2 separate regions of the Homo sapiens genome follow, and region 2 is linked to region 1. Evidence: fine-mapped expression QTL. A gene starts in region 1. The other region holds a variant in brackets. All regions are shown on one strand. Distances are from middle to middle. Region 1 holds the start of METTL23 (methyltransferase 23, arginine). Region 2 overlaps MXRA7 (matrix remodeling associated 7).

Region 1 (5,365 bases):
TGGTCTCGAACTCCTGGCCTCAAGTGATCACCTGCCTCGGCCTCCCAAAGTGCTGGAATAACAGGCTTGAGCCACCGCACCTGGCCAGGTTTTAATTTTATGTGATATGTCATCTTTATTTCAGAGATTATATAAATTCTGGTACACAGAAACACTGGGTGCATTGTTCATGGACTGATTCCTAACAAAATAAGAAAAATCAGCTGGGGCGGTAGCTCACGCCTGTAATCCCAGCACTTTGGGAGGCAGAGGTGGGTGCATCACCTGAGGTCAGGAGTTCAAGACCAGCCTGACCAATACGGTGAAACCCCATCTCTACTGAAAATACAAAAATTAGCCGGGTGTGGTGGTGGGCACCTGTAATCCCAGCTACTCAGGAGGCTGAGACAGGAGGATTGCTTGAACCCGGGAGGCGGAGGCTGCAGTGAGCTGAGATTGCGCCACTGCACTCCAGCTTGGACGACAGAGGGAGACTCCATCTCAATGAAGAAAAAAAAAAGAAAAAAAAAGAAAAATCACTAATGTGGTTTATTGCTGGACTTTATTAAAACCTCCCTTAGAGATCAGTGCTTCAACCATAGCTGCACATTCAAGTCACCTGAAGAGCTTTCAGAAATTCTGATGCGCAGGCATCACCCGAATTAAATCAGTCTCCCCAGTAGGGCCCAGGCAGGCCTCAGGAGCCCCCTAAATGAGTTCAATGTACAGCCGAGGGAGTACTCACTGTTTCCAAAAAAGATTAGCAACTGAACTCAGCGAGCAAATGCTGTTGTAGATAAGATTTTAACCACAGGCCGGGCGCGGTGGCTCACACCTGCAATCGCAGCACTTTGGGAGGCCGAGGCGGGCAGATCACCTGAAGTCGGGAGTTCGAGACCAGCCTGACCAACATGGTGAAACCCCGTCTCTACTAAAAATACAAAATTAGCTGGGTGTGGTGGCGCATGCCTGTAATCCCAGTTACAGGAGGCTGAGGCAGGAGAAGCGCTTGAACTCGGGAGATGGAGGTTGCTGTGAGCCGAGATCGCACCACGGCACTGCAGCCTGGGCTACAAGAGTGACGCTCTGTCTCAAAAAAAAAAAAAAAAAAAAAAGAAAAGGATTTTAACCACTTAGCTGCAGAATACTTTACCTGTAAGGGGGCCTGCGCTTCTCCCCAGCATACTGGAAAAGGTCATCAGTGAAAAACTTTGGCACCTTGTAGTCTTCCAAAAGTTTCCTTCTTTTAGGGTGTTCACCATAGCTGCTGTCAAAGATGTAAAGGGGACTATCATCTCGAGTGCTCTCCATGTACTCGATGTAGTATTTCATCTTCATCTTCACTGAGTAGCCATCGTTATCCTCACCACACTTGAACTTCTGGTTCCGATATTTCCTTTTTAGGCGCTCCAGAGTCCATTTCTCCTGCGCAGACCAGCCCTCTTGCGCATTCAACAAAACCACGGGCTTGTAAGGTCTTTCATACCGCTCCACAAATTCTTCCACAGACAGCTGTAAAGCATCTGCCCTTTCCACGTTATCCTGAGGGAATTAAAAAAGACCTGTCCAGTTAAAAAAAAAAAAAAAGTCCAGTGGCAGATAAGGGTGTCCCCAAGGCCAACTGGTAATGACAAACCGAAGGAAGTTGACTCTCGTCTGGCTCCTCCGGGGTGGGGGCAGGGCGCGTGCGTGAGGCCACGTCGTTCCTAGAGCCACCCCCCATGAGCCTTGACAGCCAGGTCCCCTAGGGGACCCGCCGCCCAAAGGAGTCAGGGACGACGGGCCTTCTAGTTGAGAGCGCCACAGGCGTGGGACTCCCGTCGTCCGCCAGAGCAGACGGGCGGCCACAGCACGGGAGGAAGCAGACCCGCCCCGGAATCCGCGCCTCGGGGACCCCAAACTCCGCGGGGTGCGGGTGAGCCTCTACGAGGTCCCGGGCGCTCGGGGCGAGGGCAGCCTCGGGCCCAGAGAAAGGTGCGTAGCGGCTGGAGGTGCCGATGCCCGGCCTGGCCACCCCCGCCCGACCCGCTCACCGCCACGGCCGCCGGGCTCAGCGAGAAGCTCTCGTAGTAGTTGTGCCGGGTCCAATCCAGCGAGTCCTTGAGCTCCGGCCGCGCACTCCGCTTGGCCTCGCGGATGCGCTTCTTGCTCTTGTGGTTCATTCTGCGGGGTCGCCAGCTGGTTCCGCTACGACCTCGGCGCAGCCCGCTTCCTGACACTAACGCACCCCTCCCCGGCCTGGGCGGCGGCGACGGCAGTACCCAAACGCCCTTCGCTCAGTCCCGGCGCCTTTAAAGTCGCCTTCCAGAAAATTCACTCCCCAGCCACCTCCCGAGCCTCGGGTTGGGCAAGCGGCCGCCGTCTTCCCCGCCCCGACGCCTCTCGCGGTTTTCCATTGGCTTTGGCTCCCCTGGGGTACTCCTTCACATACGGCGGGCCTCCGCCATGTTGGGAAGGTCACGTCGGCTGCGTCACCGCCCCGCCCCGCCCCGCCCCTCCCCTCCCGCGCTGCCGCTGTGCCCATCACTTCCGGTCGCGCCAGCCGCCCGTTGCCAGTTCTGCGCGTGTGAGTCTCTTTCGCCTTGCTCCGGGCTTTCTTCGCTCGCAGCGCGGCAGGGTTATCACCAGATCTGGGCTTTCCCCTTCTTGCCGTCAGGTGCTACGGCCACGTGGCCCGCGGCTTCCCGCTCGCGCAGTCTGGCAGCCCGGAGCCTTCCGCGGTCCCCCGCCCGCCCGGGGCCCAACGACGCCCTACTGGGCGAGCACGATTTCCGAGGACAGGGGGTCCGGGCCCAGCGCTTTCGATTCTCGGAGGAGCCGGGTCCGGGGGCCGACGGGGCTGTCCTGGAGGTCCACGTCCCGCAGGTGCGTGCAGCAGCACCCGCCAGGAGGCGCCTGAGGTCAGGAGCGGATGTCGGCTGACTTGGCTGGGTTCCTGAGGGACCGGGGGTGCGGACGCTCAGCTGCGCAGCTTCCTGCTTTAGGTTGACCCCCGGAGCAAAAACGTCGGATATGAAGCCCTTCGGTGCATTAAATGTCTCTCAGTAAGAATTTTGGAGACCCTGCCAAGAAGTGACCCTGGTCACTATGTTGGTCAGGCTGGTCTCGAACTGTAAGCTTAAGTGATCCTCCTGCCTCGGCCTCCCAAAGTGCTAGGATTACAGGCATGAGCCACTGCGCCGGGCCGGCTTTCTCCACATCGAATCTTTCCTGCCAGGAAAGTGACATTCTTGACTGACCTCTAATGCTTCTTTTGATCTTGTCCAAGGGTTTCTTGATTCATCCTTATCTCTCACTTTTGTGTGAGTTTTGGGATCAGGGTTTCCAGTTTTATTTGGTGCCCAAAGTGTTTCTTGGGTTGGACCTCGCTTCTTCCTCTAAGCTCACAGCTACAACAAAACTCTCAATAATAATTCTTTTTCTTTTCTTTTTTTTGAGACACTGTCTCGCTCTGGCGCCCAGGCTGGAGCGCAGTGGCGCGATCACAGCTCACTGCAACCTCCAACTCCCGGATTCAAGTGATCCTCCCGCCTGCCTAAGTGCTGGGATTGCAGGAGTGAGCCACCATGCCCTGCCTGTCTTCGGTTTTTCAAAGCACTTTCACTTTGCAGTATTTCATTTGGTTTTAACACCAGCCTGTGAGGCATGTCCCATGCTAAAGAAACAGCTTTAGAGAAGTTAAATGGGAGGCGGAGGCGGGAGGATCGCTTGGGACCAGGAGTTCCAGACCAGCCTGGGCAATATAGTGATACTACGTCTCTACAAAAAGTAGAAAAATTAGGCATCGTGGCTTGTGCCTGTAGCCCCAGCTACTCCGGAGGGTGAGGTGGGAGGATTGCTTGAGCCCGAGAGGTCGAGGCTGCTGTGAGCTATGATCAGGCCACTGCACTCAGGCATGAGCAACAGAGCAAGACATTGTCAAGAAGAAAAAAAAAAAAAAAGACTGGAGTGGAGGCTATTTCTGATTGTTTCCAAACAGCTTCACTTTTTTTTGCTAACTGCAACCTCAACCTCTGGGCTCAAGTGATCCTCCCACCTCAGCCTTTCAAGTAACTGAGACTACAGGCATTGGCCACCACACCCAATCTGGCTTCACGGATTTTTTTTTTTTTTTTTGGAGATGGAGTCTCGCTCTGTCACCCAGACGAGTGCAGTGGCACAATCTCAGCTCACTGCAACCTCCGCCTCGTGGGTTCAAGTGATTCTCCTGCCTCAGCCTCCCAAGTAGCTGGGATTATAGGCGCCCACCACCATGCCTGGCTAATTTTTGTATTTTTAGTAGAGACGGGGTTTTGCCATGTTGGCCAAGCTGATCTTGAACTCCTGACCTCAGGTGATGCACCTGCCTCGGCCTACCAAAGTGCTGGGATTACAGGTGTAAGCCACCGCTCCCGGCTGGCTTCACGTTTAAATACACTTGCATTTCTTCCTAAATGTAGGGGGTGATGATATTGCCTGTGAGAATAGAAGCCTCTTTCCTTTTTTTTTTTTTTTTTTGGAGTTGGAGTCTTGCTCTGTCGCCCAGGCTGGAGTGCAGTCGCGAGATCTCTGCTCACTGCAAGCTCTGCCTCCCGGGTTCACGCCATTTTCCTGTCTCAGCCTCCGGAGTAGCTGGGACTACAGGTGCCCACCACCATGTCCGGCTAATTTTTTTGTATTTTTAGTGGAGTAGAGACGGGGTTTCACCGCGTTAGCCAGGATGGTCTCGATCTCCTGACCTGATGATCCACCCACCTCGGCCTCCCAAAGTGCTGGGATTACAGGCGTGACCCACCACGCCCGGCCATTTTTTTTTGAAACGTAGTCTCACTATGTTGCCCAGGCTGGAGTGCAGTGGCGCAGTCTCGGCTCACTGCAACCTCCGCCTCCCGTGTTCAAGCGATTTTCCCGCCTCAGCTGGGATTACAGGCACGTGCCACCATGCCCGGCTAATTTTTTGTATTTTTAGTAGAGACAGGGGTTTCACCATGTTAGCCAGGCTGGTCTCAAACTCCTGACCTCAGGTGATCCGCCCGCCTCATCCTCCCAAAGTGCTGGGATGACAGGCCTGAGTCACCGTGCCCGGCCCCTGACTAGAAATATCTTATTTGCTTGCTCGTTGCCTCTCTACAGTAGGATATGTGCTCAGGGAGAGCTATATCCCCAGTCTGAGAATGATCCCTGATACTGTGACACTAGAAGCACTTGTTGAATAAACAGTGCTATCAAGAGTTTCTATCACATTGCATTGCAGTTTTATATCCCCAAAGGTCGTGGATTGGTGAACAGGGCTGCCATTTTTGTAATGGATGCCAATGCCTGACAGAAATTGCTGTATGAATGATTCCAACTTCCAGCAGCTAAATTATTTATGGCACACAAAAACATTCTTTTCAGGTCCTGCATC
Region 2 (5,365 bases), 45 kb before region 1:
AAGATCACTTGAGCCCAGGAGTTCAAGACCAGCCTGAGCAACATAGTCAGACTCTGTCTCTATAAAACAATTAGCCAGGTGTGGTGGTGAGCACCTGTAGTCCCAGCTACCTGGGAGGCTGAGACGGGAGGATCACTTAAGCCCACGAGGTCCAGGCCACAGTGAGCTGTGATTGCACCACTGCACTCCAGCTTGGGCAACAGAGGGAGGCCCTGTCTCAAAAAAAAAAAAAAAAAGAAGAAGAAGAGGAATTCCCGTGAACAGAAAGGATGTGCTGAGCTCTGTGGATGGAAGCACAATCCATATGTCCCTGAGTGAACACAGATCATGTCATGTGGTTTTGACAGCCATGGTGACTGCATATTTTTTAACAGGGTGGATGTATGGCTTTGTACTCTGCTGCAGAGTAAGAGGCATCAAAATGAAAGAAAGGTCAAACTTCAATGGGTTCAAAAGGGATTTTGTTTTAAAACAAAGCAAACTGAAAAAACACACAGTAATTGAGATCATCTACTCAAAGTTTATTGGACTGAACAAAGGCTGAATACAGAGATCCAAGCCATGAGGAGTACATGAGGTGTGGTGCCTATAAGCCAGGGTCGGAAACTTTCCAGACAAACCTAGATAGCTCTACTAGGAGGGAGTCAACGACCTATTGTGTCAATTAGATCCCAGCCTGGACAAGGGCATGACTATTGCTGTTTGGGGACACGTGGCTCTGTGTTGAAGGCAATGACTGTGTGGCTGTTGCCATGTGGCCTGTTCTCCCCTAAGCCCTGAACCAAAGGTTCCAGGCCCAGATGAGAAGGCCCCTGGGAATGCATGCCATAGGGGTTGATGCTGGACATTCCCCAGCCTTCCATTAAATGAAAACATTTTCTATAAACTTACTGCTTTAAAAAAATGTTTTAACCAACAAACCTAAGAACTGCAAATGAGTTTGGTATAGTATAAATATTGTCAAATATAAAATTCCAAGAAACCCATTTGAGACTGATCTGATGATCTGAAGTTCTAACTAATCTATCAAACTTTCTAAGAAAAGGCATAGGTCAAGAAATCTTTTTAAAGCAAACATTATTGCTTCTGCTATAGCAGAGTGGAGATTTGGCTGAGCTGGTAAGAACCTCAGTGAAAAGGTGTCTTAGCAATGAAAGGGCTGAATCCGAGATTCCTCTAGATGAAAAATAAGGGGAATGGTCAAGTAAATTCCTGGTACTGGTTCTTTGCTGCCCTGTAATCAATATGGCATCTCACCCCCGACAACCAAGCCAGCCACAGAGAGAAGTGGGGTTCCCAGGGAAAGGGGTCGGCTGACCACCCTGACGGAGCTGGTGAGCACAGGTGAGCTCTACCTCATTTGTCTCTCATTCCTCAAAGTCTTCTGTGGTTTGGCTTCAGTGAGGGCAAAAGAGGGGAGACTGGAGTGAAAGTGAACTCTGCTTTTAAAATGTTCTTTTTATCTAAGGTGTGCAGGGTGTGTGGATAGCAAGTTTGAGTGGTAAGAAAAATCCCAGTCCAGGGTCTGAGCTCTACCTCTTAAAACTCTTCAGCTTAACAAAGTGACCCACAGGAACAGACATGAACATCTCTACACAGGGCAGGGCCAAAGGTGTTCCCAGGATCCTGCTAGCCAAGGGACAAGTCCTGATTGAGGGTCTAGAGCTCAGCAGATTTATGGAGGCAGCATGCACCCTGGGAGCCTGCCCAGACTCCTCTCTGGGGTTTCCGTTTTATCTCTCAAGCTTTTAAGATGCCAAAAGGAAAAGCCTTTAGGAGGACGCTAAGGATAACTTCGTTATTCTTCAGTTCTGTAAAGAGAAATGGGGAGAAAAAGATAATTTATTTTACTCATTCCATCCTGCACCATGGGCAAGGAAAGGGGGAAATGGGGACGAGGAAGGAGAATGTTTGGAATTGCAGAAGCTGCGCTAGACTCTGGTTTCTCAAACCACTGCTGATTTGCTTCTCATCGCTTGCAGCAAGACAGTCTGTGCCGCCAAGCCGGCCAGAGCTTGCAGAGCTCCCCTTGATCCCGCACAGAACCTGGCAGCCCACAGACCCTGTTCAGCCTCTGCAGGGTACTTAAGGAAGGAACTTGGGCATTTGAGTTGCCAAGGGCCTTTCTGATCTTGGGTTGTGTGGTTGTGCTGACAATATTCCTATCACCCTAGATAATTTCCCATTCCCGCTGGCTGAGTTTTGTCCCCT[C/A]GGGGGATACTGGCACCCTAGGATGCACGCTTCCAGATGGAGCCAACTGCATGCCCGTCTTTTATGAACCAAGACACACTGCCAGCCCTGGGACCACTGAGAACCCAGCAGGTCTGATCTTGTCCCTCTGACGCCCTCTCCTGGTGGTCACAGTCAGCACGCATTTCCAGCCTGAGCTGGAAATTCACACTGGCAGGTCTATTGTCTGTAGTTTCTTGCATACATCAGATGGAAGAACCAGAACTACCCCACAGCTGGGGTTCCTTGGCCTCCTCCTCCCCTTCCCTGTTTTACCACACTAGCACCTTCCTCTAGAGTCATGTCCATTTCCAGAGGAGTCAAGACAGCCCTGCAGACCTCAAATGGAGGGGTGGGTCCTGATCTATCAGAGCCAGCCCAGTCTATAGCCTGGGTTCATTTTCCCTCTGAGACCACAAGGTGGGAAGAAGTGATGGAGAGGAGCTGACAGCCGCGCCTGTTCTTTCTCCTGCCAAGCTGTGAAGCCAGCCAAGCCCTGCCAGCTTCCCTAGCTCTGGGGGAGGAGGAGGAGGCCTCTTGCTCAGGGGAGCTGTCACCAGCCTGCAAGCCCACTGTCCTAGCCACACTGTGAAACTGGAGGTGGCACTTCCCACAGCAGCTTCAGCGGAACCCAGGGACGCCACCAGAGGCATGAAGTGTGTGAAACTCCGGCCCGAGGGGAGAGCTGAGGAGGCGGGCAGACAGTGGCAAGCAGGATCTTAAGCAGCAGCTGCCTCTGGATTTACAGACCTGACCGCTTTCTGGCCCCAGGCGGAAGGAATTTGATCTGTGAGTAGTTCAAGGATGAGACTGACCACTTCAGCATGTCGGGGAACTAATTGGGGGCCTTCTGCTTCCAGTCCCACTTCCTAATTGTCATGAGAGCCTGTGAACTGAAGCTCCTGGGGAGTGCTGGAACTGGCAACCACTAAAGCTTCAGGTTCTAGATGCAGATCTGTTGGCTGAGCTAGTAAATTTAAAGTTAGGGGACGTGCAGCTTGTAGCTGCAACTCGACTGGACCCTGAGAGCTGGGAAAGGCATCAGAGGCATGGAGGCCGGGAGGGTGGAACCTGACAGGCGGAGAGAGAGCACCCTGCTAGCTGGCCTGTGGTTTTAGTGGTTTGATAACAACAGGCATGTTATTTTTCATACTGATGATTCTAGGGCGGTTCCCTGGACTTGGCTGGGACCAGAACTGTCTCACAGCTGCCAGCGCTCCCCACCCCCATGAGAACCATCGTGCTGAAGATGAAGAGCCAAAGCCAAACTGACCAGCCTCTGCAACCCCAAGCATCACCGTGTGAGGACAGCGTGATGTGGAGCCGCGGAGACCCCACGCAGTGCTGCGAGGGGCAACCACATGCAGGGGGGCAGAGGTGTGGGGGAGCAAGCAGATGCCACCGGCATGCCTAGGAGCCACAGGGAGCATGCGGGCTGGGCAGTGATGGGAATGAACGTGAACTCCAGTCCTGCCCCAAGAAGTCCTCCGGCCCCTCCTTCTCAATTCAGGGCACAAAGTGGTAACTGCAGCATGCAGAGGAGTCGAGGAGTCTTCCCTCGTCCCAGGAGCAGCACCTCGGGCACAGTCTCGGTCCCACAGAACAGCCAAGTGTGGGTTGGTGGTCTAGAGACCTCCAAAGATCCAGTGGGGGAAGGATGGGCAGCAGAGGGTCTACTCTCTGAAAATAAGGGGAAGGGATTTTCCCTCCCCACTGCCAAGGTCCCAGCTCTGGACGTGGGTGGCAGTGGCAGTTTCACCCCCAGCCGGAGGCCTGGTCTTTCTTGTTCTAAGAGGCCCTCCAGATCCATCTGCCTGAGCAGCCTCTGTCCCCAGGGACCTTCAAGGGCTGGCAGTTGTGTCCAGCCCCCTCTAGCCTCTGTCCAGGGACTGCAACCTTTTTCTGCAAACAGCCAGATACTACTTAGATTTGGGGGGCTGTGTGGTCTCTGCTGCAGTGACTCACCTCGGCCACTGCGGCACAAAGAGGCACAGACCACAGGAAAATGGGTGAGTGTTGCTACTACTGCCACGCTGGATTGGCACAGGCAGGTGGGGGATCAGATGTGGCCCGGCCGTTGTCTGCTAACCCTTGCCCTGATCCTAAGAACCTGCCTGTCTCACAGCTTGGGAGCACGGACCGTTCTCAGAGTATCTGCTGTGCACTGTGCAGAAGCTGCCTCATCTTCTCAGGGTGAGACCCAAGGCTGCAGGGTGACGACATCCACATTTCCGAAGCCTGAGGTCCCAGGGTGACAGTTCCCCCAGCCTTGCGAGGGGGCGCTAGCACCCCAACCTGCCGGCCCATTAGGCCCCCTCCAGGAACTCAGGGACTTAACTCCCCTCCAGGAACCTCTGCCCCCAGACGGGGCCTCTTCTGCCAGAGATTCCTCGTGCTTGAGAAGAATGAGAAGGGCTCAGGTGGGAAATGTATTAATCGGTTATGAAGGCGATGGAGGAGGGGAGGTTGAGGCCGCGTCAGTTGTTTGGGGGCACGTTAGCACGCAGTAGAAGGGGAGCACCACTAGTCTAAGAAATCAGTGTCCTTACCAAAAGGATTTGCAAGAATATTTGTGGCTCAGGACCTAAGGAACTTGCTACAGGGAAGTGAGGTCAGAGGTCAGCTCAATCCTGAAATATAAATGCAGCAAACCTGGTCATGCCAAGCGGCAGCATCCTCAGCACCTGAGGACTCGGGGCTCCTGCCAGGGCTCTTCCTCCTGGCTGTGCTTACACTGCCCGCCCCCCACCCACCCAGGGTGAAGAGCTTTCCTGCTGAGGGTCGAGAGCGCTGATGCCAGCAGCGGGAGGGGAGACAGGGCCTGTCACCGGCAGAGCAGCTGTGAGGTTAGAGGGCTGCCCGGCGGGTGGCTTGGCATGCAGCCATGAGAGGGCAGTTGAGTTCTGATTCCAAAATCATAAACCACCCCTCCTGCTCGGACCCTAGACCGCTGGTTTCTGCTGACAAGTAGGGGGTGATTCCCACAAGCTGCTCTGGGTCGCCAGGCTTGGAAAATGGCACAGCTACCACCTAGACTTCTGCTTTAACCAAAGGACTCCAGGCCACGCTGCAGAAGGGCAGCAGTGTGGGTGAGCACCAGGAGCCTGCTGCGCCTGGTGCAAAGGACTGTCCCTCT

The links. PIP is the estimated chance that this variant, and not a neighbour inherited with it, causes the effect.
Region 2: its variant is fine-mapped to the expression of METTL23 in whole blood (TOPMed, PIP above 0.99).

What each region holds. Positions count from the first base shown.
Region 1 is chr17:76,724,335-76,729,699 of GRCh38, forward strand. METTL23 (methyltransferase 23, arginine) reads left to right here and starts at 2,505. Exons shown (of 5, transcript NM_001080510.5): 1 at 2,505-2,844; 2 at 5,356-5,365. It overlaps JMJD6 (jumonji domain containing 6, arginine demethylase and lysine hydroxylase), which reads right to left and starts at 2,272. Exons shown (of 6, transcript NM_015167.3): 1 at 2,013-2,272; 2 at 1,133-1,521. The coding sequence starts at 2,141. RefSeq lists enhancers at 2,145-2,774, 3,405-4,033, 4,691-5,321 and silencers at 2,196-2,325, 2,436-2,885.
Region 2 is chr17:76,679,069-76,684,433 of GRCh38, forward strand. It overlaps MXRA7 (matrix remodeling associated 7), which reads right to left. Exons shown (of 4, transcript NM_198530.4): 4 at 498-1,811. The coding sequence ends at 1,799. Among named protein-coding and RNA genes, the nearest start is that of MXRA7, 29 kb to the right of the region's middle. RefSeq lists enhancers at 3,361-3,907, 5,001-5,365. The variant C/A (reference allele first, on the strand shown) is at 2,212.